4 linked regions of the Homo sapiens genome follow. The protein of the gene in region 1 interacts with the protein of each later gene in a pairwise test. Each region holds a gene or a part of one and is shown on either strand. Other genes may lie near its edges.

Region 1 (6,711 bases):
TGGTCCCCCTAAATTGACTTCATAATCCTTCTTGGGGACTCTATTCATAGTCTGACAAACACAACAGAGGAAAGGAGTGACTCATAAACTGATAATAATCTGAGAAAAACACACCCTGAGGTCAAAATTTTCCTTTGGTCAATGTTCACTAGTTATCTTAATTTGTTTTCCAAACCCTGGAAGGCAACTGTGCTACACAGAACCCCAGTGCCAAGATCCCACCGTTCACATTACTCTCATCCTTTCGGGAGTAATACTTCTCATTACAAATCAATAAATGCACATTTTGAAACACATTCATGTCATGCAAAGTAAAACTGGCCAGCATCTCCACTGGCACAGTGGCTCCCAGATCAGATGAACTCCACTGAACCAAACTTTGCAACATCAGACTCATCAGTCAAAGCAAACCTTCTTATTACAGAAAATTGTAATCTCTCACGTTATTGTAAAATAAGACAATAATTTGCAATACTCAACATGATAACTCGGTAGAGATGTTTAGTTCAATATGATTTTATTTAAAAATGTGTACAGCTGAAGGAGGGATCTGATCTTTTGTTAAATGAAACCAATTTTCACGGTATATATTTGGCCATTTTAGCTTCGTAGTGAATAATAACAGAAAAGGAAGTTTCTGTTCAAGATCCTCACTCCAGCACACTCAGCCAGGTGCCTGGCAAGATGACACATTTCCTGGTCTGAAGCTCACAGCCAATCCTCTCACTGAAGTGAAACACCAATTCTCCAGGCATACACACACATACGCACATCTTATTTTCACTGCTCTACACAGGGACCTGAGAATCCTTAATTTTAAAGTTGGGAAAAACGTGAAAGGATTCCTTAACTCATTGTCTGCGACAAATCCAACTACCTGTTAACTCTTAACAATTGCAAGTATAAAATACTTGAAATTTACAAGATGCTCCATTTAATGGAACAACTCAAATGCTAAAAAATTAGGTCAAATAACATGCTTTAATATTTTTAAATGTTACTTAAAACTTATTGAGACAAGATACGCAGCACATTCTTGGTATTATAAACTCCTACTGACGACTGCTACTTGATGGCCAAAAACATTTAAAGAAAGAGAAGAAACCATACTGGTATACAACAATATCTGCAGGGAATGTCATGTTTTACATTTTGTTAACTGAAATTAAACCTGACAAAAAAACCAAAGATCTACAAAACCGACACCCATGTCATTTTAAATGATGAGGTAGATTGTTTCCTATGCAGTAAAGTGAAGATAACAAAAAAATCCATACAACTTCCAAATCCTCTTTAAAAAAAAAAAAAAGTTTGGGTTATAGTCACTTTCACAAACAAGACATTCATAAACTATAAGGTGGAGAGGTCATACTCAGGCAGGTTCTGTACTTGATGTGTTACTTGGAGATTCAATAATCAGTCTTGGGTCAATCAACTCTTTCCAAAATACAGTGATCTGAGGAAAAAGACAAAATACCCAGTTTAGGCACTTCATTTTGAGGTCATACCGGTTAATTCAGCCACGTAAATTTTCCGTCTGTGTAGAATGATTGAAGAACGGGAATAATTTGGGTTCCAATAAACTGAGTTCAATTGCAGTATAGTAACTCTTTAGGCCAGGCGCTGTGGCTCACACCTGTAATCCCAGCAATTTGGAAGGCCGAGGGGGAGAAATGCTTGAGCCCAGGAGTTCAAGATCAGCCTGGGAAACCTAGTGAGACCCCATCTCTATTATTTTTTTTAATTAAAAAACAAAACAAAAAAAAAGAGGCCAGGCATGGTAGCTCACGCCTATAATCCTAGCACTCTGGGAGGCCAAGGCAGTCGGATCATCTAAAGTCAGGAGTTCAAGACCAGCCTGGCCAACCTGTGTCTCTGCAAAAATACAAAAATTAGCCGGGCATGGTGACGCATGCCTGTAGTCCCAGCTACTCGGAAGGCTGAGTCAGGAGAATCGCTTGAACCCAGTAGGTGGAGGTTGCAGTGAGCGGAGATCGCGCCACTGCACTCCAGCCTGGGTGACAGAGTGAAACTCTGTGCTGGGAAAATAAATAAATAAATAAATAAATAACTCATTTACTTAGAATGAAGCTAAATTTTACATTAAACATATTTCATCTTTCTTTGATTAAGAGCAGGAGATGCAGGGGTTGCGGGAGGGAGTAGCTCCCCCAACCCCTGCATTTGATTTGCCCTGTGGACAGGTGGCCTGGAGACCTTCTGGCAACTAGACATGGTCCAGATGGGTATCATTAGGCTGCTGATGCCCTTTTGCGCCGCTCTGTAGTTCTTATCCTACACTACCTAAAAACAGGAACTATTTCACAGCCCACCAAGAGAAAAACTCTAAGGCTTGGTCCTATGAATGAATAATGAGGGCCATCTAGTGTCAAAAAAGGTAATTACAGGCTTTTTGTTTTTGAGATAGGGTATCACGTCTATAGTCCAGGCTGGAATGCAGTGGCATTCAGGACTCACTGCACCTTCCACCTCCTGGGCTCAAGCGATCCTCCTGCCTCGCCCCCACCACCCCCAAAGGTGGCTGGGACTACAGGCATGTGTCACCACTCCCGGTTAATTTTTGTATTTTTTTGTAGAGACGGGGTCTCGCCATGTTGCCCAGGCTGGTCTTGAACTCCTGGACTCAAGGGATCGGCCCGCCTCAGCCTCCCAAAGTGCTGTGATTACAGGCATGAGCCACGGTGCCCAGCCTAATTACAGGCTTTCTATTCTACTTCAAGTCTCTGTTTAGGGCATAGAGAGAAAAGCCTCCAAGGTTTAATTTTCCAATGCGGTTTCCAATTTCAACCAAAAAAAACTATTGCAAATAAAGAAATACAGGAGACCAGGCCAAATCTGCTGATCCTACCACAAACACTAAAAATGTGTTTCTGGAATAAATCCCTAAAAGTGTCATCTACCTTAAAGACAAGGTAAAACACAGTCTGGCTAGGGTTTCTACAAGTTCACACTTCAGAAAAAATATGTTTGCAATATTGAAACTTACAGAATAATATCTATAACATTTCAAGTATAAACACCTTAAAAGAGAGCATTTTCTTAAATCTAACTTCCATTTAATGCCACCATAACCTAATGAGCTAGCCACTGCCAGCAACTCTGGTAGGTCTGGCTGCTTAAAAAGGTATAAATCGGCCGGGCGCGGTGGCTCACACGTGTAATCCTAGCACTTTGGGAGGCCGAGGCGTGCAGATCACGAGGTCAGGAGATTGAGACCATCGTGGCCAACGCGGGGAAACCCTGTCTCTAGTTAAAAAAATACAAAAAATTAGCCAGGCGTGGTGGCAGGCGCCTGTAATCCCAGCTACTCGGGAGGCTGAGGCAAGAGAATGGTGTGAACCCGGGAGGCGGAGCTTGCAGTGAGCGGAGATCACGCCACTGCACTCCAGCCTGGGTGACAGAGCTAGACTCTGTCTCAAAAAAAAAAAAAAAAAAAAAAGGTATAAACCATATACTTCCCAAAATGGCAATTTAAGGATTTAAAGAAAGTCAGAGGATGAGATCATCATTTTATGTCACTCTTCAAACTGTTGTGCTATTATAAGTTGGAACTCTCGGGCCAGGCATGGTGGCTCACCCAGGCACGGTGGCCTGTAATCCAACACTTTGGGAGGCCTAAGTGGGCAGATCACTTGAGGTCAGCAGTTCAAGACCAGCCTGGCCAACATGGTAAAACCCCGTCTCTACCAAAAATATAAAAATTAGCTGGGTGAGGTGGCAAGCGCCTGTAATTCTAGCTACTCCAGAGGCTGAGGCATGAGAATCGCTCGAACCTGAGAGGTGGAGGTTGCAGTGAGCCAAGATCATGCCACTGCATTTCAGCCTGGGCAACACAGTGAGACTCTCTCAAAAAAACAAAAGTTGGAACTGTGGTAACACTTGGGGGATAGTGGTGACAGCAAGGGGACATAATAGAGGCTTCTGGGAGTGGGTGTTATGTTCTATTTCCTGATCTGGGTCTGGTTACATGGGTATGTTCATGTGAAAGTTGTTCAAGCCATGTAGTTATATGCACTTCTCTGAACGTGTATGCCAATAAAGTTTCTAAATATGCTACCCTTTCCTACTGGAATCCTTATATAGCTATAATTTTAAACAACTGTACACTCTTAAAGAAAAGTTTGTTATTTGTGCATCTTGTCACATAGGCTCTATGAGGGCCAAGATGGCGCCCTGATTTGGCACTGGTATTGCCACACCATAAGAAGGTCAGATTCCCCCCAGGGCCTGTAGTGCAATGTCACCTTCCAAACCACAGGTAATTGGTCAAGAGAGAACGAATGGCCAAGCAACGCAAGAAGAGAAGCACACCTACCTTGCTCTCCTGTGTCACAGCGTACTCCACTACCTCGGCTCCATTTTCATTGTGATAAACTAAATCAAATTTCCCAGGTTCTCTCAAGGCTGAAACAAGAAGATAGGGAGGAAAGAGAGTAAGTCATTTTTCAATAGTTAAAAATGTTCCTCTATGGGGAATTTATATCATTAAGAAAACAACCACAAACAAACTGTCAATTAATGTGAAGGCTGGGTATGTACAGGAAAGCACAGGGTGCTCAATACTGGGGGATCCTGAGAAAAACTCTGGACCAGGGGGACTTCTCAGCCATTTATCAGAGAAAATCTTTCCTTCATAAGCTTGATGAACTGTCATTAGTACTACCAGAATTGAATATGGCACCACAAGATAATCCCCAAAATTAATTAATTTATGTGTTTCAACAAGGGAAGGTAATATGAAATGCTGCTCTGTCCTTAGAAATCACATATGCTTCCTACTACTTGGTAACACAGGCAGTCCCCCTTTTTTTTTTAAGACAGAGTCCTGCTTTATCGCCCAGGCTGTAGTGTAGTGGCGCAATCTCGACTCACTACAACCTCTACCTCCTGGGTTCAAGTGATTCTTGTGCCTCAGCCTCCTGAGTAGCTGGGATTACAGGCATGCACCACTATGCCCAGCTAATTTTTGTATTTTTAGTTGAGACAGGGTTTCACCATGTTGGCCAGGTTGGTCTCAAACTTCTGGCCTCAAGTGATCTGCCCGCCTCGGCCTCCCAAAGCGCTGGGATTACAGGCGTGAGCCACCACACCCGGCCTCAGTCCTTGCTTTCTATGGTAAAATGGGATTGGAAAAATGACTGTGCAAGCTGAAACCACGCAAAACAATCTTAATAATCAATAGGAAAAATTATTATCGTCTTACGAGTTTTAAAAAATTTTGCCAAAACATTAAAAACCTTTACTACATAGGGAAATTAAAAAATAGTAAAATAAATATATTGTACTTATGAGTACACTGTAATTACATTAGGAACACTAAGAACTAACTTTCTTTTTCTCTTTCCTTCTACACGTTTTATTTCTTTGTAAGAAACTTATCAGGGGGAGTTTGAACAGTGCTTGTGTTCTTGCCCTGTAACTTACAATACAGAGCAAGCATCTTCTCTATGCTTTGTGCAACTGTTATACTCTTTTCTAAGTTTGAAACTGCTTTCTACATTTTATCCTTTGAACTTCTAATGTCGTGAAATAGCTCAAAGAATTTGTTTTTTACTTTGTAAAATCTTTGTTTTTGCTGGTGTCACTTTGGGGACATTTTCATCCTTTTTGCCACAACCACTTTCCTCATTTATGTCAATAAGTTCACCTCACTGGCAGTGTCAACATTCCTACAGTGAGCTATTTCTTCTACAGACTCTCCTTAAACTCAGTTTGGATGGCACTTTCAGCATTACCACTTTTGTTTCTTTGCTGTGCCTTTATCTTTGTGGGCCAATTCCCTACTTCGATTATACGTGTTGTAAAATGTCATGCAGGTTTATAAGTGAGAGACAAGGAGGCACCACAACTGCATGCTCTGCTCTGTATGTGAACTGAATAACAGATGCACAGTGACCAGTCACTGACGGACTCTGAAAGTACTGACTTGACTGGTAATGGATCATGACGCGTATCTGTTATTTATGTTATATAGTGATATGTGGACTAAAGAGCTAGCAGTACTTCATGCACTTACAGTTAACATATGCAATGTTGCTGGGGGACTAGTATTACTTAACTAAACCAGGGTAACTGAAATATATGTATATCAGAACCACCACATCAAGGACAAGTGACATTGCTATTAGAGAACAGATAAATCCATTTCTTTCTTTCTTTTTTGCTTTTGAGACAGGGTCTTGCTCACTCAGCCTGGAGTGCAGTGACGCAATCATGACTCACTGCAGCCTCGACCTCCTGGGCTCAAGTGATCCTCCCACCTCAGCCTCTCAAGTAGCGAGGACTACAAGCATGTACCACCACACTCAGCTATGTTTTGTTTTTTTTTTTTACGACAGAGTCTCACTATGCTGCCCAGGCTGGTCTTGAACTCCTGGGCTCAAGTGATCCTCCCACCTTCGCCCCCGAAGCCATTTCTTGATGCCCTAAAGAAGAAAAGTTCTAAGTGGATGTCATCACTATTAATCACCTGACAAGCACTGATCAGGCTGTATGCACAGAATTTGACAGTGGACAAACTTTTCTGTCCACCGTTCCTAAGAAAGGGGATTTCTATAAATGAAATCTCATCAGAAGAAAGGTTGGAAACCTGGCCAGGCACGGTGGCTCATGCCTGTAATCCCAGCACTTTGGGAGGCTGAGGTGGGAGGATCACGAGGTCAGGAGATCGAGACCGTCCTGGCTAACACA
Region 2 (8,578 bases), about 25 Mb from region 1:
GAACAGAGGAAAAGAAACTGTCCAATTTGAACAAGAGAGAAAACAAATTGAAAAGAAACAAAACACAGCCTCAGGGACCAGCAGGACAATAACAAAAGACCAAACGTTTGTGTCCTCAGAGCCCCAGAAGGAAAGAGTGTGGAGCCGAAAAAATTACTTGAAAAATAATGAATGAAAACTTCTGAAATTTGGTGAAAGACATAAACCTTCAGATCAATATCAAAAAGAATAAACCAAAGAAATCTATGCCCAGATACAACATAATGAAATTTCTGAAAACTAAAGACAAAAATTCTTTTTTTTTTTTTTGAGATGGATTTTTGCTCTTGTAGCCCAGGCTGGAGTGCAGTGGCGCGATGTCGGCTCACTGCAACCTCCACCTCCCGGGTTCAAGCGATTCTCCTGCCTCAGCCTCCCAAATAGCTGGGATCACAGGTGTCCACCACCATGCCCAGCTAATTTTTGTATTTTTAGTAGAAATGGGGTTTCTCCACTTTGGCCAGGCTGGTCTTGAACTCCTGGCCTCAAGTGATCCACCCGCCTCAGCTTCCCAAAGTGCTGGGATTGCAGGCACCCGCAACCACACCCGGCCAATTTTTGCATTTTTAATAGGGGTTTCACCATGTTGGTCAGGCTAGTCTTGAACTCCTGACCTCAAGTGATCCACCCACCTCGGCCTCCCAAAGTGCTGGGATTACAGGTGTGCGCCACCGTGCCCAGCTAATTTTTGTATTTTTAGTAGATACGGGGTTTCGCCATGTTGGCCAGGCTGGCCTTCAACTACTGACCTCAGGTGATCCACCTGCCTTGGCCTCCCAAAGTGCTGGGATGACAGGCATGAGCCACGGCGCCCGGCCTGTCAACGTAATTTTAAGAGTTAAGTGTGAAAGAATGTCTATCATATTCATCCTTGCCATTAGTTTTCCTTCACTCCTGACATTCCTAGTTTCCTTCCTTCTGTTGTGTCTAAAGTACCTCCTTTATCAGTTCTTTTAGATCCAGTCTGCTGGTGACAAACTTTTCCTTCATCTGAGAATGTCTTTATTCACTCTCATTCCTGAAGAATATTTTTACTGAATGTATAATTATGGGTTGACAGTTTTTTGCTTTCAGTACTTGAAAAATATTATGCCACTTCCTTCTGAGGAGAAATCTGATGACAGCTGCTGCTGAGAACCCACTACCGCTCCAGTCACTGTCCCCTGTGGGCTGTGCATCGCTCTCTCTGTGTGCTTTCAACAGTTTTTGTCTTTAGGCCGGGCGCAGTGGCTCACGCCTGTAATTCCAGCACTTTGGGAGGCCAGCGCAAGTGGATCACCTGAGGCCAGAAGTTCGAGACCAGCCTGGCCAACATGGTGAAACCCTGTCTCTACTAACAATACAAACGCCACCAGCTGGGCATGGTGGCACATGCCTGTAACCCTAGCTACTTTGGAGGCTGAGGCATGAGAATCGCTCGAACCCAGGAGGCAGAGGTTGCAGTGAGCCGAGATTGTGCCACTGCACTCCAGCCTGGGCAACAGAGACTCCGTCTCAAAAAACAAGAAATTCATTTCAAATATAAAAGAGAGAGGTAGGTAAAAAGAAAAAGGGATGAAAAAGTTATACCACGCGAATGCTAATCAAAAGAAAGCCCGAGTGGATTAATTAATATCAGACAAGGTAGACTTCAGAACAAAGAATGTTGCCAGACAAAGAGGAAGATTACGTAACAATATAAGGGTCAATTATCCTAAAAAAAAAAAACCCTAAATGTATACACATCTAACAACAAAGATACAAAATATATGAAACAAAAACAAAGAATCGTGATTTAAAAAATAAAGATCTATATTAAAACAGGAATAGAAAGAAACTTCCTTAACCTCCCTCCACTACCCCCACCACAAAAAACCTTCAGCAAAAACTCAACCTAAAAAAGTGAAATGCTGAAAGTTCTTCCTCTGGGATTAGGGAGAAAGACAGCTATTATCAACATCATACCGGAGAGTTTAGCTAGGGGCGATAATGCAAGAAGAAGTAAACAATATCAGCATTGGAAAAGAAAAATAAAACCTCCCTTATTTTATTTTACTTTATTTTTTTTGAGATGGAGTCTCGCTCTGTTACCTAGGCTGGAGTGTAGTGGTGCAATCTCGGCTCACTGCAACCTCCGCCTCCTGGGTTCAAGTGATTCTCCTGCCTCAGCCTCCCAAGTGGCTGGGATTACAGGTGCCTGCCACCACGCCCAGCTAATTTTTTTGTATTTTTAGTAGAGACGGGGTTTCACCATGTTGGCCAGGCTGGTCTCAAACTCCCGACCTCAGGTGATCCACCCACCTCGGCCTCCCAAAGTGCTGGGATTACAGGCGTGAGCCACTGCGCCCGGCAAAAACCTCCCCTATTTGAGACAATCTGTGCCAGTGGAGTGTCCTGTCTGGCCCCTCCCTTTCTTTTCCTGCCTTAGGCCTGCAGATGGGGCCTGCCTCCCCTACACTAAGGGGGGCTGTGGCTCCAGCAGGGTGAAGGCATCTGTGTGGAAGGCAGCCAGGCTGGGCTGTCAAGCTCGGTGATGCTGGGGAGGCATCCAGGCAGGAGAGGGGCCTGCAAATAGGGGAAGGGGCCACAGCAGCAATGGGGGATTGGTTACACCAAGAGGACTCGATCAAAGTAACTGTGTTAGTGATAATGGGCGAGCCAGGTTTCTCATTATTGGGAAAGGAAGTTAGAATAATGAAAAAGAAAGCTAGAATGCTAGAATGAACCTTTTGATGTTGGACTAACCACAATGGAATAGATTAGCCTATGAGTTTGTCTTGAAATTAAGACCTTCCATTCACCAAAGACACCAGTGAAGGAATAAAAGGCAAGCCATAGACTGGGAGAAGATATTTGCAACACATATAACCAACGCTAGGCTCATATTCAGCATAAAATACCCTAAAAAAATCTATGACAAAGGGCAGATGATCCAATAAACAATGGGCAAAAGACATGGCCTGGAGCTCCAAAAGAGGGGCTGTCGAAAGGCCAATTCTATGGACTGAGCTCTGCCCCCCAAAATTTACGGGTTGAAGCTCTCACCCCGAACATGACTGTATTTGGAGACAGCGCCTCTGAGGAGGCAGCTAAGGTTACATGAGGTCCTAAGGCTGGGGCCCTGGACTGTTGTCCTTACAAGAAGAGGAAGAGTCGGGCGCGGTGTCTCACGCCTGTCATCCCAGCACTTTGGGAGGCTCAGGTAGGCAGATCACGAGGTCAGGAGTTCGGGACCAGCCTGACCAACGTGGTGAAACCTCATCTCTACTAAAAATACAAAAATTAGCCGGGCGTGGTGGCATGCACCTGTAATCCCAGCTACTCAGGAGGCTGAGGCAGGAGAATCGCTTGAACTTGGGAGGCAGAGGCTGCAATGAGCCAAAATCATGCCACTGCACTCCACCCTGGGCAACAGAGCAAGACTCTGTCCCAAAAAAAAAAAAAAAAAAGAGGAAGAGACACCAGGAGTGAGCATGCAGCGGGGGAGGAGTCACGTGAGCACGCAGGGGGAGAGTCCACATGAGCACGCAGGGGAGAGGGTGCCGTCTGCAAGCCACAGAGAGGCCTCAGGAGGAACCCACCCTGCCGGCAACCTGATCTCTGACATCCAGACTCCAGAAGTGAGAAAATAAAACCGTTGTTTAAGCCACTCAGGCTGTGGTGTTGAGTTACGGCAGCCCTAGCCAATCATACGCCAATGCACACAGGAAGAGATGTTCAATCCCACGAATCTCATGAATTTGCAAATTAAACCAAAATAGGATGTGCTACGTGTCCACTAGAGGGAACAGAAGGAGCCGCTGACCACGTAAGTGTTGGCGCGCATGCAGCACCACGGCTACCTCGCACGATGTGGATGGATGCTTTGGAGAAGAATCTGGCATTATCAAGTGAAACACAGTGTAGGTCTGAAGACGCCAGACAGAAGCACAGGTGCCACAGAATTCCATTCACACCAAAACAGGGAGCGCTGACTGCAGTGAGCAGCCAGGGCACGTGGGCTCCGGAGGGAGCACAAGGAATTCCATTCACACCAAAACAGGGAGCGCTGACTGCAGTGAGGAGCCAGGGCACGTGGGCTCCGGAGGGAGCACAAGGAATTCCATTCACACCAAAACAGGGAGCGCTGACTGCAGTGAGGAGCCAGGGCACGTGGGCTCCGGAGGGAGCGCGAGGAATTCCATTCACACCAAAACAGGGAGCGCTGACTGCAGTGAGGAGCCAGGGCACGTGGGCTCTGGAGGTAGCTCCAGGAATTCCATTCACACCAAAACAGGGAGGGCTGACTGCAGTGAGGAGCCAGGGCACGTGGGCTCTGGAGGGAGCACAAGGAATTCCATTCACACCAAAACAGGGAACGCTGACTGCAGTGAGGAGCCAGGGCACGTGGGCTCCGGAGGGAGCACAAGGAATTCCATTCACACCAAAACAGGGAACGCTGACTGCAGTGAGGAGCCAGGGCACGTGGGCTCTGGAGGGAGCACAAGGGGCTGCTGGGCTGGATGACGCCGCCCCAACGTCTGCAGTAGCCTTGAGCTGTATATTTGCTATGAGCGGACTTTTGCAGGGGTCAGATTTCAGTTTATAAGGGGACAGCAAGTACCCCACTGAGACGCGGACTTACCAGTCGTCTCTGTCGAGGTGCGGACGCTGGGCTGAGACTCAGCATGAGGTGAGGACATCTTTAAAGGATCCAACACATCTTCTAGATGCTTTTCCAGAGTTTTAAACTTATGCTTTAGAGTTCGTATTTCTGCTTCAAGGGCCAGAACATAATCTGCCAAAAAAACCTCCAGTGAATATAACACATACACAGCATCCTTTCGCACCTCCCTCCTGTGAGCACCAGCTCAGGGAGCCGATGCCAGCTCATGCCCGCCAGCTTCACTGTCCCTGTCCTCCTCACACTACAGCTTCACCGTAGTTTCCACACTCTCTGTGTGTGTCAGACTGAAAGACCTTCCCTCCCCTCACTGGCCAGAGTGTGCCAGCCAGAGACCAGCACAGTCTCCATGCTCTCCAGGAAGGGCTCAGTGATCAGGAGCAAATGCTCCACCTGCCGCCAGCCCACGTGCCTCTGTGCAGAGGGGCCAAGTCCCATCTCGAGAACGGAAGCTCTGCCTCCATCCCGGCATCTGCCCACCCACAGCCACTCATGGGGTCCCTGGGGGTCGGGAGGCCCTCATCAGCTCTGCCACAGACGCTCCTCTGGAGGAAAGGACTGAGGTCCACCAGCCCCTGCTACCAACCCATTCTGGGACAGCGCGACAGCAAGCCAGCCCTGGTCCAGGTCTAAAACAGGTTTTTAAGTGTGTCAAGCAGGTACCCTCATTTTTTCCTTCCACTTTACAAATATAAAAGCTTTTTGGTATAAAACTTAAGATCCCTTCTCTTGGAGAAAAAGCAGTTTTCATACTTTGAGTTTATTACAGGGGATGTTAACTTATAGGACTCTGAAATGAAGCCTCCTTGAAGCCAGTCAAGACCCATGCTCCCGTCTGTCCTCCTCCCTCCCTCTCCCCCTTCCTCTCCCGCTCTGTCCGTTTCTCCCACTTACTCACCAGGAGTGGCGGCATCTCCCCCAGCCTCTGGGTCAGGCTGGTTTGCATCTGTGCTCTCTGCCGCTGTCTGGATGGGAGGAGGAATCTGATGGCTTAGAGCCTCCATTTCTTTCCTCATCTGGGCAATCGCGTTTCGCAAGCTCGTGTTCTGCTCTCGGAGCCGCTGGATCTCACTGGATGGAAAGTCTTTACTTATTTCTTCTTCATGCTGCCTGAGAAGCATCTGTCAAATACAAGGAAAAATGGCTACAAAAAGATGAATGGTTCCCCAGCTTGTCCTGACAGGCTGTGCCTCCGCTCTCCCCGCGCCCCTCTCGGGCCGGTCCCCCGCTTCAGCTTGGGCTGTGGTCCCTCCCCATCCCCAGGCTGTGATGCCCCTCCTTTCTGACAGAAGTGCAAATATGACACTCAAATTCCTGGAGCCTTTCATACTTTTGAGATCCCTAGAGTGTCCAATCCACAGAGGCAGAAAGTGGAATGGGGGTGCTGGGGCTGTGGGCGGGGAGGGGGAGCCAGTGTTTCTTGGGGACAGAGCTTCAGTATGGAAAGATGAGAATGTTCTGGAGAGGGTGGTGTGATGGCTGCACCTCCGTGTGAATGCGCTTCATGCTGCTGAACTGTGTGCACCAAAAAATAGTTAAAGCAGCCAGTTTTGCGTTATGTATACTTTAGTACAATCAAACATCCACTAAATAGGATGAAGAGCAGGTTCAGAGCGCGCAGAAGAAAAGGCAGTGAATATAAACACCTGGCAACAGAAAATACCCAAACTGAAGCTCAGAAGGAAAGGTGCCAAAGAAGAAAAAATGAGCAGAGCTCTGGAGACCATGAACAAGGTGCACAAGGAACCAGGAGCCCAGATGAACGCAAAGACAGGAGACGCGTCTACAACAAGGCCAGACATGTTACAAATGTGCTGAAAGCCACACATCACAGATGACGAAGCAAATGAGCTGAAAGCCGACATCACAGATGACGAAGCTCAGTGAACCCTAAGCAGGATAAACAGAAAGAAAATCATACCAAACAGCACATAATCAAGCTGCTGAAAAATCAGCAACAAAATGGAAACTCTAAAAGCAACCCGAGAAAAGAGACATGTTACCCTAGGGTCAAAGGGCAGGCATAGGGATGACAGACCCCGCAAGGAGCCACCAAGGCGGGAGGACAACGAGGTGAGGTGGCTCCGGTGCAGGAGGAGAGACAGGCCCCGCCCACCCAGTTCCTAGGGAGAGGGAGTGTCCTTCTCTAACCAAAGGTGAGGGGCGCTTCTGCCTCTGACCAGGAGGGACTCACTGCCATGAGTCTTTCCCTGCGGCTGTGAACAACTAGAACACCAGACACATTAGAGGAAACACCTGCTTCCAGACGCCAGCATAGACCCCAGATACGGGAGAGGGAAACAAAGTCCCAGGGTCTGGCCCAACTCAACCTTGAGTCCAGCCAAGATGTGTGCAAAAGGCACAGCTTCCTCTCCTGTGGAGCCACCCTGAGGGACGCAGAGCCTGCTCCCTACTCTGCACTCCATGAACACAAACCTGAAGCAAGATCTGGGCCCTTCCCAGGACGCTCTGACTGCCCGCTGGCTCCTCCGTGCTCCCTGGCAAGGCCAGCTGGCCTGGGCTCCCAGGAGGAGAGCTTCACACGCTGCGCTCAGGGGTGGAGAGGATGCGAACAGAACCTGCACCTCAACTGGCAGTTTAGAAACGGAGACAGTGCGATGCCTAACCCTGTTTTTACTCTAACTCGCTACTTTAAATTTTGCCCTGTTTGTCTCTTTAATCACCTAGCCTTGTTTCTCATGTAAATAAGACTCTCTCTAGCTGGGAAAGCCGGACAAACTCCAACTGACCCCTTAATTTACAAGACACTAAGGGCTCCTTACCCAACCCCCTTCCGCAAGGAGTTGACCTGTGTAAGCAGATCCTCAGCATTTCAAAGGAGCCCAATTAACTGATAAGGTACTGGCACCAACAACGTCTGAAGTTCCCAGGATTCTTCTCAAAGAGATAACAACATAAAGCCTTGAGTTCGTGTCCGGCATAGCATCTATGTCTAACTATAATGAAGGATTTAGAGCCCTGCACCTGGTACCGTTGCTTTTTGTAACCATTTGTCTTTTAAATTGTTTATCGCTCTGTAACCATTTGCTTCTTTTGATTCTTGCATGTTTTTACTTCTGTAGAATTATTGCCTTTGAGTTCCCCTCCCCTTCCTAAACCAAGGTATACAAGTTAATCAAGCCCCTTCCTCAGGGCCGAGAGAATTTTGAGCGTTAGCCGTCTCTTTGGCTGCCGGCTTAAATAAAGGACTCAATTCGTTTCAGAGTGTGGCGTCTTCTCTAACTCGCCTGGGTACAACAACAGGAAACTGCCCACCGCAGTGCCGTGATCACAATGGCGAACAACATGAAGGACCATTGGTAAGAAAATCGCTAGGTGCGTTATGGTGTGGCCGCTTGATAAAACATGCAGCCATTTAGATTCTGTTCGTGAAGAATTGTAATGGCGTGGGAAAATATTTATGGTAGAACCAAAAGGAAGAAAGAATTCTCCTGGAGAAACAGTCGCATGAGGGGTAGACCCTGGAAGGCCGTGCTCCACCTGGCCAGTTACAGAGCGGGATACCGAGTGCCCAGAGGCTTACCAGGCTATGTCCCAGGACGCGCTGAGGGTGCTGGCTGCCTGGCCTCACTGGCTGAGCAGGCCCACCACAGCGGCAAGCAAGGCTCAGAGGGCTCGGCAGTGTGAAAGGAAAATATCACTAAGCTAAAGGGAGAAGTCAAGCTGGGAACTGCTCAGGGCAAACCTGCCTCCCATTCTATTCAAAGTCACCCTTTGCTCACTGAGATGAATGCGTATCTCACTGCCTCCTTTGGAGAGGCTCATCAGAAATTCAAAAGAATGCAACCATCTGTCTCTTACCTACCTATGACCCGGAAGCCTCCTCCCCACTTGGAGTTGTCCCGCCTCTGCAGATGGAACCACTGTTCATCTTAC
Region 3 (8,578 bases), on another chromosome or scaffold:
GCTGCCATAATACGGTACCACAGATGGGTGGCTTAAATAACAGAAATTTATTTTTCATAATTCTAGAGGCTAGAAGTCTGAGATGAAGTTGATGGCAGGGTTGATTTCTTCTGAGGCTTCTGTCCTTGGCTTACAGATGGGACTTCATATGGTGTTTGCTCTGTGTGTCTGTGTCCTAATCTCCTTTTCTTATTAGGACCACCAGTATTGGATTATGGCCCCACCCTAATGACCTTATTCTAATTTGATTACCGCTTTAAAGACCCTATCTCCAAATACATCACATTCTGAGATACTGAGGTTAAGACTTCATGTGAATTATTTGGTGGGGGAAGGAGGAACACAGTTCAGCGTGTAACACCTTCCTTGGAGTTTGGACATTTATTTCCTACTAAAAGTCAGTGACACTCATCCCGGATGTATTTAGTAATGAGTTTGCATCTTAGCTAGAATTTTCCAGGTACATGGATATTGGTACACTTGACAAGTATTTTTTTTAAATTTTGTGCTGACTAGTCATCTGCTATTCCCTTTCAGTGCCCCCAGAGTGAGCTGGATGCTGAAACTGTGAAGAGCATTCTGGCTGAATACAAGATTCATAATGCCGATGTGACTCTACGTAGTGATGCTACAGCTGATGACCTCATTGATGTGGTGGAAGGAAACAGGTACTGACTGAGTGTGCAGTCTGTGCCTGACTGAATTGGAAGCCTTGTGATGGAAACAGTATTGGATCTTGAATCTGGCAGAAGTTTATCTTAATTCCAGTTGTCCTACTGTCTTTTTTTTTTTTTTTTTTTTTGAGATGGAGTCTCACTCTGTTGCCCAGGCTAGAGTGCAGTGGCGTGATCTCAGCTCACTGCAAGCTCCACCTCCCAGGTTCAAGAGATTCTTCTGCCTCAGCCTCCCGAGTAGCTAGGATTACAGGTGCGCACCACCACGCCCAGCTAATTTTTGTATTTTTAGTAGAGATGGGGTTTCATCATGTTGGCCAGGCTGGTCTTGAACTCCTGACCTCAAGTGATCCGTCTGCCTCGGCCTCCCAAAATGTTGGGATTACAGGCATGAGCCACTGTGTCCAGCCTGTGCTACTATCTTAAATGATAGTGGGCTTTGGTTTCTTTTTTTTTTTTTTTTTTGAGATAGAGTTTCGCTCTTGTTAGCCAGGCTGGAGTGCAGTGGCGCAGTCTCGGCTCACTGCAACCTCCACTTCCAGGTTCAAGCGATTCTCCTCCCTCAGCCTTCCTGAGTAGCTGGGATTACAGGCCTGTGCCGCCACGCCTGGCTAATTTTGTATTTTTAATAGAGATGGGGTTTCTCCGTGTTGGTCAGGCTGGTTTCGAACTCCTGACCTCAGGTGATCCACCCCACCTCGGTCTCCCAAAGTGCTGGGTTTACAGGTGTGAGCCCGGCCTTTTTTTTTTGAGACAGAGTCTTACTCTGTCACCCAGGCTGGAGTGCAATGGTGTGATCTCAGCTCACTGTAACCTCCTCCGCCTCCCAGGTTCAAGCGATTCTGCTGCCTCAGCCTCCCAAGTAGCTGAGATTACAGGTGTGCACCACCATGCCCAGCTAATTTTGTATTTTTAGTAGAGACGGGGTTTCATCATGTTGGCCAGACTGGTCTCAAACTCCTGACCTCAAGTGATCCGCCTGCCTTGGCCTGCCAGAATGTTAGGATTACAGACATGAGCCACTGCGTCCAGCCTGTGTTACTATCTTAAATGATAGTGGGGCTTTGGTTTCTTTTTTTTTTTTTTTTTTTTTTTTTGTGAGACAAGAGTCTCACTCTGTCACCTGGGCTGGAGTACAGTGGCGCGATCTTGGCTCACTGCAACCTCCACCTCCTGGGTTCAAGTGATTCTTCGGCCTCAGCCCCCTGAGTAGCTGGGATTATAGGCGCCTGCCACTACATCTGGCTAATTTTTTGTATTTTTAGTAGAGATGGGGTTTCATGTTGGCCAGGCTGGTCTTGAACTCCTGACTTCAGGTGATCTACCCACCTCAGCCTCCCAAAGTGCTGGGATTACAGGTATGAGCTGCTGTGCCCGGCACCCGCCCCCCCCCCCTTTTTTTTTTTTTTGGAGTCTTGCTTTGTCCCCCAGGCTGGAGTGCAGTGGCACGATTTCAGCTCACTGCAACCTCTGCCTCCCGGGTTCAAGCAATTCCCCTGCCTCAGCCTCCCAAGTAGCTGGGACTACAGGTGTCCGCCACCATACCCAGCTAATTTTTGTATTTTTAGTAGAGACGGGGTTTCTCCATGTTAGCCAGGCTGGTCTCAAACCTCAGGCAGTCTGCCTGCCTCTGCCTCCCAAAGTGCTGGGATTACAGGCGTCAGTCACCCTGCCTGCTGGCTTTGGTTTCTTTAGGGGTAAACTGAGGGATTAGTTTTTATTTCTGACATCCTTCCTTGCTTTTAAATTTAATTATGATGGTCATATTCCCCATTTCAGTTTTTTTCTTTTACAGCCTCTTCCTATGAAATTCTCCGTTTCAGTTACTTGCTGTAAACTAAGCTGCCCCCTAAACTTTGTCATGTGATAGTTGAAGAAAGTAGTAGGTCAGTCTGCTCTTCCAGAATTAATCCACCTGAGAAGTTATATAGGCTGTGTCCTACAGAAGTCCGAGCAGGCCAGGCTGTGTCTGTTTTCTCCATCCTAAGAGTATGTAGCTGAATATCTGTTTCATGATACATTACTTTTTTTTTTTTTTTTTGAGACAGAGTCATGCTCTTGTCGCCCAGGCTGTAGTGCAGTGGTGTGATCACGGCTTACCGCAGCCTTGAACTCCCGGGCTCAATCCATCCTCCCACCTCAACCTCCTGAGTAGCTGGGACTATGGGCGTGTGCCACCAAGCCAGGCTAATTTTTGTATTTTTTGTAGAGATGTTGTTTCACCACGTTGCCGAGACTGGTCTTGAACTCCTGGGCTCAAGCAATCTGCCTGCCTTGGCCTCCCAACGTGTTGGGATTATAGGCATAAGCCACTATGCCCAGCCCATTAATATTACTGAGACTTTAATAAGTTAAGTCACTGTTAAAATTACTCATAGCATTTGCATGTAATATTTTTAGTTGCTCTCCTAGTCATTTGTTCCTGTATGTTGGATGAGTGTACTTACTCCTCATTTGAAAACAAACAGAAGCCAGTGTTTTCAGTTAGGCATTTTACAAGTGAGGCAGTTAAACCTGAGAAGTTGTGGCTTGCCTAATTAGTAGTAACCTTAGCTGTCATATTGATTGGACACTAGGAATATGACATTGGTAGATGCTATATCAGTTTTACCAATATTATTTATTGTACCAATAAATAAAACACTTATTTTTTAGTCTTTAAGTATAAATTATGTTTTAAAACAGCCTTGTAGGAAACTGACTCAGAGGTTAAGTGACTTTCCTAGGGACACATAACATCACCTCTTCATATCCACAGAGGATTGCTTCCAGGACCCCTTGCAGATAATGAAACCTGCAGATGCTCAAGGCCCTTATATAAAATGGTATAGTACAGCTGACCCTCCGTGTCTGTGGGTTTTTGATCTGCAGTTGGTTGAATTCAGGGATGCAAAACCTGCATATTTGGAGGGCCAGCTGGGATTAGAATCAGTCTGAGCACTTCAAAGCTTGTGTTCTTTCCACTGCAGTATGCTTTCCTAGCAGTTAGCTTTGTGGCTGGTACTAGGGCCTGACTTCTGTTACTTTTCAACCCATAGTTCACTTTTTCTTTTTCTTTTTTCTTTTTCTGGCTGATCTGCTACTTACAGTCCCTCTTGGGAGCGCCAGTTGGGTCTGGGTGAGGGTGTGCTGTTCAACAGTCTGACAGTTCTGTCAACAACTCCAGACTAATACCCTGTTTTTCTTCACTTTCTGTAGAGTTTATATCCCCTGTATCTATGTGTTAAATAAGATTGACCAAATCTCCATTGAGGAATTGGATATCATCTATAAGGTGCCTCACTGTGTACCCATCTCTGCCCATCACCGCTGGAATTTTGATGACCTATTGGAAAAGATCTGGGACTATCTGAAACTAGTGAGAATGTAAGTCTTTGTGGATAGGGTAATGTTGCTATAGGAATTAACCAGACTGTCCTAAAATGATACTTTCTGGAGCTCATTAACAAAATCTGGCTCTTTTTGAAAATATAAGTAAATTGGTTCCTATTATCTACTAGGTCATTAGGTCATATTGAGGACACTTTTTCCCTTAAGTTGGAGGTTGTCCTGGTCTGATGTCAGGGGTGATGGAGGGTTGCTATACATTCAACACATGAGATAGTCTAAGAAGGCAGTAATCTTTATGCCCTCTCTATTCTAGTTACACCAAACCCAAAGGCCAGTTACCAGATTACACATCCCCAGTGGTGCTTCCTTACTCCAGGACCACAGTGGAGGATTTCTGCATGAAGATTCACAAAAATCTTATCAAAGAATTTAAATAGTAAGTATCATGGGCCTGTGGTCCCTCCTTTTTCCTATGAGTTACCAATTTTACTAACTAGTAATTCTTAGGATAGCATTTTAAAAAAGAAGGCAGGAAGGAGGCTACTGAAATGTTTGCTTGGCTAGAACTCTGCAGTGTCTTCTTAAAACCGTGCCTAATTAGAATAGGAAGAGCTCTAGAAACCTCTTTAGGTCAGGAAGCCTGATGACACAAACAACCCTGACCTTCCCTCATTATTTCATCTTCCTCTTGGCAAACACAAATATTAATAATTCCTGCCAATGTCACACTGGCCTCTACTGGGTACTGAGCCCCCTTCTAAACCTTAAACATGGGCAAAACCTCCCTAATCTCTTACATTTTTCACTGCTGACACAGGCTGAAAAAAAATTATTTTATTTTTGCGACGGTCTTGCTGTTGCCTTGGCTGGAGGGAGTGGTGAGATCATAGCTCACTGGAGCCTCAATCTTCTGGGCTCAAGCAGTCCTCATGCCTCAGCCTCCTGAGTAGCTGGGACTACAGGTGCACACCATTATACCCGGCTAATTTTTAATTTTTCATTTTTTGAGACAGTCTCGCTTTTGTTGCCCAGGCTGGAGTGCAATGGCGTGATCTTGGCTCACTGCAACTTATGCTTCCCGGGTTCAAGTGATTCTCCTGCCTCAACCTCCTGAGTAGCTGGGATTACAGGCATGTGCCACCCACCATGCCCAGCTAATTTTGTATTTTTAGTAGAAACGGGGTTCCTCCATGTTGGTTAGGCTGGTCTTGAACTCTTGACCTCAGCCCCCCAAAGTGCTGGGATTACAGGCATGAGCCACCGTGCCTGGCCTTAAAAAATGTTTATTAGAGACGAGGTCTTGCTTTGTTTCCCAGGCTGGTCTTGAATTCCTGAGCTCGAGCAATTCACCTGCTTCAGCCTCCCAAAGTGTTAGGATTATAGGTGTGAGCCACTATGCCCAGCATATTAATTTTTTATTTTGAACTTATTTTAGACCAATAGCAAAGTTGCAAATACAGCACAAAGTTTCTTTTTTTTTTTTGAGACGGAGTCTCGCTGTGTCGCCCAGGCTGGAGTGCAGTGGCGCAATCTTGGCTCACTGCAAGCTCTGCCTCCAGGGTTCATGCCATTCTCCTGCCTCAGCCTCCCGAGTAGCTGGGACTACAGGTGCCCGCCACCACGCCCGGCTAATTTTTTTGTATTTTTCAGTAGAGATGGGGTTTCACCGTGTTAGCCAGGATGGTCTTGATCTCCTGACCTTGTGATCTGCCCGCCTCGGCCTCCCAAAGTGCCGGGATTACAGGCGTGAGCCACTGCGCCCAGCCCAAAGTTTCCTTTTATCTCTCACCCCACTTCTAATGTTAACAGCTCACATTACTATAAAATTATCAAAAACAGGAAATAAGCATTGGTATGATGTTGTTAACTATAGATCTTATTTGAAATTTATTACTTTTTCTTTTACTAGTGTCTGTTTTGTGTTCCAGGAACCTGTGTGGCATTTAGTTGTTGCTTGTTTGTAGTCTTGTGTTCTAGTCTACCAGTAATATTTCCTTAGACTTTCACTGTCATTGATGATCTTGACACTTTTGAAGAGTGTTCACTAGTTATTTGATTGAATATTCCTTAGTTTGAGTTTGTCCAGTGTTCTCTCATGATTGAAATGAGATTATGCATTTTTGGTAAGAATACCACAAAAATAATGATATGTTCTTCTCAATGTATCATTACATGAGATTCATGATGTTGATATACCTCACCGATGATAATATTCACATTGATTACTTGGTTAAGTTGGTGTAGGGTGGGTTTCTCTGCCGTGAAGGTAGTATTTTTCTCTCCGTATTTTATAAGTATCTCGGGGTACTTTTGAGACTGTGAAAGTCCTTTTTCTCTTCAAATTTTTGCCTGCTATTAGCATCTACTGGTGAGGCTTGTTTGTGACATTTATGGCTATGGTGTTTACCTAGCCATAGGCTGGAGTGTAGTGGCACGATATCAGCTCACTGCAACCTCTGGCTCCTGGGTTCAAGCAATTCTTCTGCCTCAGCCTCCTGAGTAGCTGGTACTACAGGCGTGTGCCACCGTGCCCGGCTAATTTTTGTATTTTTAGTAGAAATTTTTGTATTTTTAGTAGTCAGGCTGGTCTCAAACTCCTGACCTCAGGTGATCTGCCTGCCTCGGCCTCCCAAAGTGCTGGGATTACACACAGGCATGAGCTACCACGCCTGGCCTAATGGTGATTCTTTATTTTCCTTTTTTATTTTACATTTATTTATTGGACTTCTGTGTGTTAGAGCTACCACTTCTTTATTTAACTCATAATTCCTATCAGTATGAGCTCTTGGTTATTTTATTCTATAGGATGTAATCTAATACTATTATTATTTTGTTGCTCAAATTACTACAAAGCTTTGGCCATTAGGAACTCTTTCATGTTGGCCCCTGTGTTCTTTTGATAAGCTCCTTTTTTTTTTTTGAGACACGGTCTCACTGTTGTCCAAGCCGGAGTGCAGTGGCACGATCACAGCTCACTGTAGCCTTGATCTCATGGGCTCAAGCCTCAGCCTGCCTCAGCCTCCTGAGTAGTTGGAACTCCAAGTGTGCGCCACCATGCCCAGCTAGTTTTTTCTATTTTTTTTGTAGAGACAAGGTCCGACTTGTGTTGCCCAGACTGGTCTCCAATGCCTGGGCTCTAGTGATCCGCCTACCTTCACCTCCCAAAGTGCTGGGATTACAGGCATGAGCCATTTATTTATTGTAGAGATGGGGTCTTGCAATGTTGCCCAGGCTTCTCAAACTCCTGGGTTCAAGTGATCCTTCCATCTCTGCCTCCCAAAGTGCAGGATTACAGGCATCAGCCACCCTTTCCTTACTTTTTGATAGTGTTAATACTTAGATGTTCCCAAATGACATTGATTTTGCCTGCACTAGCCCTGAAAATTAGTCACTTCTCCAAGGAGCCCCAGTTTTCAAGATGTGGGTGCTAAGCATGCTCATTGTTAGCAAGTAGGTTATCATTGCCTGTAGGCCCTCTCAGCAAATAAAGTTAGGAAATACATGTATGGATACTAATGATGCTTATATACACAACTGTATTTCTGTATCTGTCTTATCCTTCCTCACTATCCATCATTTATCCATCTTTCCTAAAAACCATGAGTTTATACTGTTATCTCTGATTCTAGTTCAATACTACAGGGTTAATTTTTTTTTTTTTTTCTTTTTTTGAGATGGAGTCTCGCTCTGTCGCCCAGGCTAGAGTGCAGTGGCGCCATCTCCGCTCACTGCAAGCTCTGCTTCCCGGGTTCACGCCATTCTCCTGCCTCAGCCTCCTGAGTAGCTGGGACTACAGGCACCCGCCACCACACTCGTCTAATTTTTTATATTTTTAGTAGAGATGGGGTCTCACCGTGTTAGCCAGGATGGTCTTGATCTCCTGACCTCGTGATCCGCCCGCCTCGGCCTCTCAAAGTGCTGGGATTACAGGCGTGAGCCATCATGCCCGGCCACTACAGGGTTCATTTTAGCCTTCCCACTTAGTATTATTTTTGAGACAGGTTCTCTGTCTCCCAGGCTGGAGTGCGGTGGCTCTGTCACAGCTCACTGCAGTCTCGACTTCCCAGGCTCAAGCGATCCTCCTACCTCAGTTTCTGAATAGCTGAGACCATAAGTGTATGCCACCATGCCCAGCAAATTTTTTTTTTATTTGTAGAGACAGGGTCTCCCTATGTTGCCCTGGCTGGTCTCGAACTCCTGGGTTCAAGCGATTCTCCTGCTTTGGCTTCCCAAAGTGCTGGGATTACAGACACTAGCCACTGCACCCGGCCTTCCCCCCCCCCCCCCGCTTTTTTTTTTTTTTTTTTGAGACGGAGTCTTGCTCTGTTGCCCAGGCTGAGTGCAGTGGTGCGATCTCGGCTCACTGCAAGCTCCGCCTCCCGGGTTCATGCCATTCTCCTGCCTCAGCCTCCCGAGTAGCTGGAACTACAGGTGCCTGCCACCATGCCTGGCTAATTTTTTGTATTTTTAGTAGAGACGGGGTTTCACCATGTTAGCCAGGATGGTCTCGATCTCCTGACCTCGTGATCTGTCCACCTCGGCCCCCCAAAGTGTTGGGATTACAGGCGTGAGCC
Region 4 (8,409 bases), on another chromosome or scaffold:
AGAAGTTAAATTGAAGTCAGTTATCCTTGCTAAATCTACTCCCCTCATCCTTTATTATAGATAATCAAATTTGCCAAGATCAAATCCCAGGAGCAATGATAATAAGTAGAGTACAGGTCAACAGAGAATTAAACAACTCAGCCCGAGGACTAAGCACTGAATGAACATCTATAATAAAATTTGTAAAGTTTACTTACACTAGAGATTGTCAGAGGCATGTTGAAATCCTTACCGCCCTGCAGCCGGAAACCCCAAGGAGCTGGGCCAACCAGTGACACACTGTAGTTGCTCATGGTTCTAATGGCTCAAAGTCCAATGACAGAAAATGAAATATGCTGTGAAAGAAAATCAGATGATTAGCAAAAATGTTTACTTGAAACCCTAGAACATAAATTATGTTTAGTATTTTGTTTGAGGGGGGTGAGAGGATATAGAAGATAAGTCTTAATTAAGTTCTTCATTAATTTCAGTTTAAGAAAAGCAATCTGTGAGCTAATATAAATTTTCTACACTCATGGCAATTTCCATGGTCTAAAAATTCCATATCAGAATACATTTCTAGACACTTAGTATGTTTCACAACTTGCTTCAATCCAATTTTGTGGCTTCTTGCATGCAAAGTTTAACTCAAAGTACTTTACAATACTTCACTAATGTAGCAAGATTTTATTTCAGGTTGAATTCAGAATAATTTTCTCCTTCCCTCCACTTCATGTATTCTTTTGTCTGCAATTGACAAGAGTCTTTCAACTGCACTTACTTAAATTCTAAGTTACTCTAACATGTGAAAGAGACTGCAAATCAGTAGGCTCCCATTCATGCTTTCCAAATACTAAATTCTTTACAATGAGAAGCTGTTTTTCAATGCACAAAACTATTCTCTCCAATCATGAACTACAACTTGTATTTCCTCCTATGGGGACATGGTATTTTCCACACTTAAAGTGATATCTACTTTTCCTTCAGATAGTCAACGATAGGCAATACTCTAGTACAGTGATGTTAGTCACAACCTGCTTTTTGTTTTATACACACACCTCACCAGGCAGAGAGTAAGCATTTGCCACTCAGTGAATAAGATTATGACTAAATACAGCAAAAGTGCTGGGTTAATGCATTCAAATGGAATTGGCAGTTTAGAAAAGAACCAGTGCTTCGGTGCTTTCTTTTGTCTGTTCTGCTGTTAAGTGTGCGTGTGATGACTCTCCTAGTAGTACTTTCATATAATTTTTAAAAAGCAAAAAAAAAAAAAAAAACTTCGAGTTTCCTATTGGTTGTTATAACGGCAGGAGACAGAGGAATGAAGTTTTCTTTTGTTTTAATGGAATACTAAGAAACAATAATTCTCTCTCTTTAAAAAATATTAAAAACATAACAGATATGTAATTTTATATTAAAAACATACTTCCTTGGAAAATGTAAGCTATTCAACCAAATCACCACCTAATATTACCTGTCTTAAAATATGTTTTAACCCATTCAAAATTTCTAGCCCATCACCCCAAATTCATAGTTGCAGATATAGATATTTGAGCCATAGGTATATTTAAAGCAAACATTCCTTCTTCTCATAAAGGGAAAATGGGGCAAAACATTCAAATAAGCCTGGTTTTTAAAGAAAAATTATATCAGGGAAAATAAAAATTACAGAAAATTGTATCAGAAACCGAAACAGCTTTTCTACTGGCGTGGTAGTATACTGAACTACAAGGCAATAACACATTACTTCAGTAATGAAGTAATAGGCACAGAGCACTAAAAAAGATCCAAAGGCCAAGCCGGAAGTCAAACTGTATATATAGGTGAAAAACTACTAGTGGGAAGCTAATAACGAGCCACACATAATTCAATTGCTTTCCCGCTATAAAAGGAGGAGATTTTCAGAAAACTAATAGAAGGACTGTCCTGATATTGACACGATACAAATCAGAATCGTGTAAAGCCAACTGATATTTCACAGGCAGCCTGCCCTCCTTTATTAATCTTTAACTTGTGTCTGGGGAATAATATGAAAGTTGGGCTCAACTTCCTCTGGCCCCATTCTTCCCTACAAGAAAATGTATTTCATTTAGATTATCAACCCATGTACTTGCAACTTCCCTTTACTTGGGGATTCCCTTCCTAACTTCTCTCATTTGTTATTAAAATTCCTAGCACTGGCAAGGTCACAGCCACACTACAAAACCAGTGTCATTTCATTTCTAGTCACTGTCCGTTCATTTCTAGATGCTTCTTCTGCTAGCTTCATTTGGAATTCATCTGCCTTAAAACAGTCTCTGCCCCAAGCAATGGCAATATTTTTATTGGCCTTTCCAAGACTCCTCCATCTGGTTATTAGTGCCCAAGCCCTTCCTCAAATACCAAGCAGGCAGGAAATAGCAGCATACTCTTTCAAACACGTCGAAAAGGTTGGAATTTCTGTAGAGTTATGGATTTTCTTTTAGGGAAAGTCTAAACAATGTCTTTGCTCTAGTACTAGGGAAGGAAGCTTGGTATTTCCCACACTTGTATCTCAGCTTCATTAGTGGGTGAGAGGGGAGAAAGGAGAACTCAAGATGAACTACACAGAGTGACAAAAAAAAAGGCCTGAAATTAAAGAGAAATATCTTGAGATTCTCTTTCCCCGCAATGGAGAGAGAATGTAGGTAGAGCTGAAGAACTAAAGCCACAGGCACAGGATGAAAGCAGCCGACAGGACAGTTTTCCAGGAGGGATTCGCGCCTAGCCTTGTTGGCCAAATAAGGCTACCGAACGGGCCGTTTCCGTGGCAGGCGGGTTCAGACGTCCTCCCCGTCAGGAAGGCGGACTTGGGATAGGATCTGGCGATCACACCCTAAATCTGCCCTGCCCAGCGCCGCCACGAATTTTCCTTCCAAGCTCTGCCCTGTCCACACGCCCTTCCTTTTTCCACTTATTGTAAAACGCACCGAAGGCACAGTCTTACAAAAGCCCCAACAAGTACTCAAGTGTTAACAAATCTCGTGTTCATGACAAATGTGTTTCTTAAACGAGCTTTATTTCTGGACGCGCAGAAGTTTTCCCCAAACAGGTTACACAAAACTGTAAATATCTGGGGGAGAAATAAATGCTTCTCAGTAGCCTGGGAGCAAAGAAAAACTAACGCGCCTTTTCCTTTGAGTCCCGCTTCCTACCCTCCAAGAGACTGGCGCAGGACTGGGCACTCAGACACCACACCACGGTGGTGCCGGGCGACGCCGGCAGCCGGGTGGGTGGGAGCGGCAGTGCCCGTCCCTGCCGGCCCTCGCCACCTCCGGGCGCCCTCCCGCGTCCCCGTCTCCGCTACGCTGGTCCCGGTCGGCCCGGGCTGCGGGGACCCCAGGGCTCGCCCTCTGGCCTCATGCGGACTCCAGCGCTGCCCTTTTCCGGGCGCTCCTTTTCCCAAGCTGCTCTCCCACCTCCGCCGCTCCGCGCCCAGAAAGCACCTGAGGAGCCATCCCTGCCCGAGGAGCGCCCCCTCCTCGTCCCCAACCGGGCTTCCCTTCTCGCGTTCGGCGCACAGCGGCCGGTTCTTTCCCTTCTCCCACCGGAGATCCGAGAGGCGCATCGCCGGCCGGCCGCCACTCACCTCGGGTCCGGCGCGGCGCGGGGCTGCCTCCGCCTCAGACAAGGGCTGACAAGTGACTCGCGGTGAGGGCGCCGTCCCCACCGCCCGCGGGAACTTCCGCCTCCTGGCTCTCCCTCGCCCCACCCCCGACCCAGGACACGCCCCTCCGCTCCCGGCCACGCCTCTGGGCCAGTCCCAGCCGCGCCGCGCAGGGGCGGGGAAGGTGGCGGCGGCGCCGGGCGCTCGGGCTTGCTGGGGCTGGCTGAAGCAGCTGCGGAAAGACAACTGCGCTACCGAGTTTCGGTGGGAGTAGTCTTAGCGGATTTTGAGCGCTACCTGGCAAAGGTCTAACCCTCCGCTCGTCCGTTTTGTAGTGGGTGCATTTTTCTCTCCAGAAATTTAAATTGGCAAGCAGTTGCTCTGCCTAAAAATAGAAGGGTACTTTGGATAAATCTCTATCTATGCAAGTTCAGCGGTTACTGCCTGCGTTTTTTTTTTTGAAAGAGCTTTACATGCTCTGAAAAGTGCAGACCCAGAAGTTTACCTGTCAGGAAGGTGAAAACCAGTAACCCTAACAGAAGTTAACCCTGTCCATCACACCAGAAGACAGTGATACATAAAAGCGGCCAAAAGTGATTCAACCACTGTATCTTCAGTTTATTTTTCTAAATCCAAATCAATAGTCCACTTTCCAGCCTTCTATAGGGTTGCTTGATACGCCCGAGGAATTTATTCATAAGAAAACGTGAATAATGTTCACTGAACATACGGAAAGTAACTAGACTGTTACACTGTGAATTGGCTTATAAAACGTGAAAAGGACAATTCTTAACCAAGGAGCATATAAAGCAAGGATGAACTTCATGAGGTCCGTGAGCTCCCCGGCCCCCAGAAGTGCAAGCAAAATTCCAAAGGCGAAGATCCAAAGCTGCTCTTTCCCTAACGGTAGCCACTGGCCACATGTGGCTATCGAACAGTTGAAATGTGGCTACTGTAACTGAGACCATGAATTTTTTGTTTTACGTAATTTTAAATAATTTAACATTTAAAACTGAAGCAGGATAACATTTCTTTACTTTTTTTTTCTTTGAGACGGATTCTTGCTCTGTCTCCCAGGCTGGGATCAGTGGTGCAATCTCGGCTCACTGCAACCTCCACCTCCCGGGTTCAAGCGATTCCCCTGCCTCAGCCTCCTGAGTAGCTGGGATTACAGGCGTGCGCCACCACGCCCGGCTAATTTTTTGTATTTTTAGTAGAGATGGGGTTTCACCATGTTGGCCAGCCTGATCTCGAACTCCTGACCTCAGGTGACCAACCCGCCTCGGCCCCGCAAAGTGCTGGGATTACGGGCATGAGCCACCGCGCCAGGTCGTTAACATTTCTTTTAAGCACTACATTTAAGGACTAAAGTTGAAAATATAATGCCCAAATTGAAATGCGTTGGAAGTGTAAAATGCACACTGGATTTCGACGACTTGGTATGAAAAAATAATGTAAAATGCCTCAATAATTTTTATATTGATTATATGCTGAAATCATCATATTTTATGTTTTGTTAAATGATACATGATTATGGCCGGGCGCGACGGCTCACGCCTATAATCCCAGCACTTTGGGAGGCTGAAGCGGGTGGGTCACCTGAGGTCAGTAGTTCAAGATCAGCCTGGCCAACATGGCGAAACCCCGTCTCTACTAAAAATACAAAAATTAGCCGGGTGTGGTGGCGCATGCCTGTTATCCCAGCTACTTGGGAGGCTGAGGCAGGAGAATCACTTGAACCCGGGAGGTAGAGGTTGCAGTGAGCCGAGACCATGCCACTGCCCTCCAGCCTGGGCGACAGAGCAAGACTCCGCACCAAAAAAAAAAGAGTAATAATAATAATATTTGATTAAAATTAATTTCACTTTTTAAAAAAAATGTGGCCACTAGATAATTTAAAATTACTTACGTGAGCAGGGTGCAGTGGCTGACACCTATAATCCTAGCACTTGGGAGGCTGAGGTGAGAAGATGGCTTGAGGGCAGGAGTTTGAGGTTAACCTAGGCAACATAGCAAGACCCATCTCTAAAAAAATCCAAAAAATTAGCTGGGCGTCGTGTAGTGTGCCTGTAGTCCCAGGTCCCAGCTATTTGTATTGCTGAGCCCAGAAGTTCGAGGCTGCAGTGAACTATGATCTTGTCTTTGCACTCCAGCCTGGGTGACAAAGGAAGACCCTGTTTCTAAAAAAATAAATAAATAAAATTACATATGTGCTTCACATTATATTTTCATTGGACAGCACCAGTCCATAGCTTTCACCACATTTTTCAAAAGATGGCTTTGGGGGAAAGTGTTTCCTAGTGTGAAAGCTGGTTTAGAGAGTCTAATATATGTTATCATGTTTGACATCTCACCCAAAAATAAAAAAAAAATAACAATAGCTACCATTAGCAAATACCTACCATGTGCTATGCAGTGTGGTAGTCCTTACAAGAACTTTATAAAATGAATGTCATCCTCATTTATAGATAATAGGTCGCAAGCAATTACAGCTTCTGCCAGTTCCACAGGGCCATGGCTCGAGTTAACCTCTAGGAGTCCCAACTCTGCCCCTTCTCATCTGTTTGCTGTTGATACAGTTAAATTGATCCTGGATCAACAAAGATTAATTTAAAGACATCAACTGCAGATAGCCTATGGAGTTATCACTAGAGGATAAGCTTCTTGAGGTGATGAGGAAGAGTTGAGAATGGGCAGACTGTTGCTTACTTATGCAAATTCCACTTTACCCCATAATTGCTAGCCTGTCTCTGAACCTCCTCCTACTACTGCAGTTTAAATCCTGGGCTACAGAGTAAATTAACCAAATTAAGTTGTCTTGCATAGACTGATATTTATCCAAGTGTCCTAAAAAGGACCGATTGCATCAAAATGACACGGATAGCTTGTTAAAATTGCATTTTCCTGGATCCCCTCTGGACTCAGAATCCTTGTAGGTGAGCCCTTGGAATCTTTTTAACAAACACTCCCTCCCCACCTCCAGGTAATTATTAAACTGCAGTGCTTAAAAACTACTTCCCTAGAGATAGTGCTATGTCTCCGGTTTAATGTGCACTGTGCTCAGTTAAGAACCATGCATTCCAGATGGTAGCAACTTATCTGTTTCCTCATCTTAAAGGAAATGATCATTGTAAATAACCTTGTGAGATTATCATGAGGAATAGAGATAATATATATAAAACATTACACAGCATGCTTCGCACCAAGTAAGGATTAAATAAATGGTAGCCATATGAAAACTTTCCTAACCAATTGATTAGATTTATTTGTGTATCATAAAAAACAAGTAGAGAACTTTGACTTTCATTATCCAAGTACTATGTTCTTGGTGCCCTATGTACATTATTCTACTTAATTCTTACAACCATATAAAGTAGACTTTTTTCAGAGGAAGAAATAGAAACTTGGAGATTAAGACATTTAACCTAGGGCACACGCCCACAGCTAATCAGTGATGGTAGTAGAGCAAAAGGTCTGATTCCAAAAACCATGTTACTTTCATCGCAACACACTGTCTCTTGGTAAATTCAGTAAGCCATCCAGACCAAAGACCTGAGGAAGATGGAATGCTTTCGAAACTAACACTGCTGAGGGCCATAGAGGTGTAAGCCATAGCAAATTATGGAAATAAAATAACTGCTGAGTAATTTGTATATGAGGGAAGATGAAACTCCTGAGCCACTTCAGGAGGACATATGCCTTAACTTGTTTTATAATGAATTGCCACGGGGCCATTCTGACTCCCCTTGTCTGTTTCCCTCATCACTAACATTTATGAAATGGTTGGCCATGGTCTGAAGGACAGCCTGTGACTACAGACGATCAGAAGTTACTGGTCCATTGGGAAATCAAACCAATGTCCTTGGCCTCATTAACTCTATAGGGCTAAGTAATGAGGCACTGACCACAAAGGAAAACATATTAAAAGCTTCATTTTATCATAATCAGGGAAAGAAAAGCTGGGTTGGGGGGTGGGGGAGAAAGAGATCAAAAGATTAACTTACTTAGCAGGAAGAGTTTTTAAGAATAGTCCCTCTAAACACAGTATTTACCTAAGCATATAAATGTTTTCTCTAACATTTTATTATCCAATCTATGACTCAGAACCTCTTGTAGCACTTCAAAAATAACAGAAACTTAATTACAACATGACATGGCTGTGACAAGTTTTTACAGTTGCACCCAATAAACTATGAAGTGCCAGTCTTTTAAAAGTTCCTATATTACTGAGTCAATTTATCTTTTAAGTCCTAATCCTGGAAGGTAAATAAACCACTCATGAGCATTTAAATTTTAAAATCTAGAATGGAAAAGAAGCATTAACTATTCTAATAACTAAAGAAACATTTGGTAATTTAGGGAGAAAAGATAGAAGGCACAGTGTCATTCTAAAGTTTACTAAAGAATCCTGGGAGAAGGGCAGAACTAAATCAGGCATGGAGAGAGTGGAAAGGAATAATGGAAAAGAAAGACTGTAAGAGCAGATCCGTGAAGCCTAGGGTAACTGAGAAAATGTGTAATTGAGGAAGAAGGCAAAGTTTAAACTAGCCTCAGGGATTCAAGTCTCAGTTTGGTGGGTGGTATTCATAACTGATATTGACTGAATGGAGAGGAGCAAGGAACTATGCATTTTACTGGCAGTTTCTAGTAAGGAAAAAAAAAGGCAATTGGTTGGTTAGTGAGGGGTAAAAATAAGAAGGATAGATAGGATGGACACTGAAAAAAGGTATCAGAGAGTCCCAAACTTGAGATTTCAGAAGTAGAGGAATATTCCTCATGATAAGATCAAGGTTCAGTCAGTCTGA

What was found.
Region 2: the proteins of COIL (region 1) and CCDC57 interact in binary tests that used the Homo sapiens proteins (3 or more experiments, as listed by UniProt).
Region 3: the proteins of COIL (region 1) and DRG1 interact in binary tests that used the Homo sapiens proteins (3 or more experiments, as listed by UniProt).
Region 4: the proteins of COIL (region 1) and PDLIM5 interact in binary tests that used the Homo sapiens proteins (3 or more experiments, as listed by UniProt).

What each region holds. Positions count from the first base shown.
Region 1 is NC_000017.11:56,937,699-56,944,409, forward strand, and holds the end of COIL (coilin), read right to left. Parts: intron 4,426-6,711; coding exon 4,337-4,425; intron 1,457-4,336; coding exon 1,373-1,456; 3' UTR 501-1,372; downstream 1-500. UniProt on the Homo sapiens protein: Component of nuclear coiled bodies, also known as Cajal bodies or CBs, which are involved in the modification and assembly of nucleoplasmic snRNPs.
Region 2 is NC_000017.11:82,167,059-82,175,636, forward strand, and holds part of CCDC57 (coiled-coil domain-containing protein 57), read right to left. Parts: exon of another isoform or gene 8,508-8,578; intron 5,803-8,507; coding exon 5,580-5,802; intron 4,796-5,579; coding exon 4,643-4,795; intron 1-4,642. UniProt on the Homo sapiens protein: Pleiotropic regulator of centriole duplication, mitosis, and ciliogenesis. Critical interface between centrosome and microtubule-mediated cellular processes. Centriole duplication protein required for recruitment of CEP63, CEP152, and PLK4 to the centrosome.
Region 3 is NC_000022.11:31,422,743-31,431,320, forward strand, and holds part of DRG1 (developmentally-regulated GTP-binding protein 1), read left to right. Parts: intron 1-537; coding exon 538-668; intron 669-3,872; coding exon 3,873-4,040; intron 4,041-4,317; coding exon 4,318-4,440; intron 4,441-8,578. UniProt on the Homo sapiens protein: Catalyzes the conversion of GTP to GDP through hydrolysis of the gamma-phosphate bond in GTP. Appears to have an intrinsic GTPase activity that is stimulated by ZC3H15/DFRP1 binding likely by increasing the affinity for the potassium ions.
Region 4 is NC_000004.12:94,447,173-94,455,581, reverse strand, and holds the start of PDLIM5 (PDZ and LIM domain protein 5), read right to left. Parts: upstream 3,641-8,409; 5' UTR 3,587-3,640; intron 336-3,586; 5' UTR 294-335; coding exon 198-293; intron 1-197. UniProt on the Homo sapiens protein: May play an important role in the heart development by scaffolding PKC to the Z-disk region. May play a role in the regulation of cardiomyocyte expansion. Isoforms lacking the LIM domains may negatively modulate the scaffolding activity of isoform 1.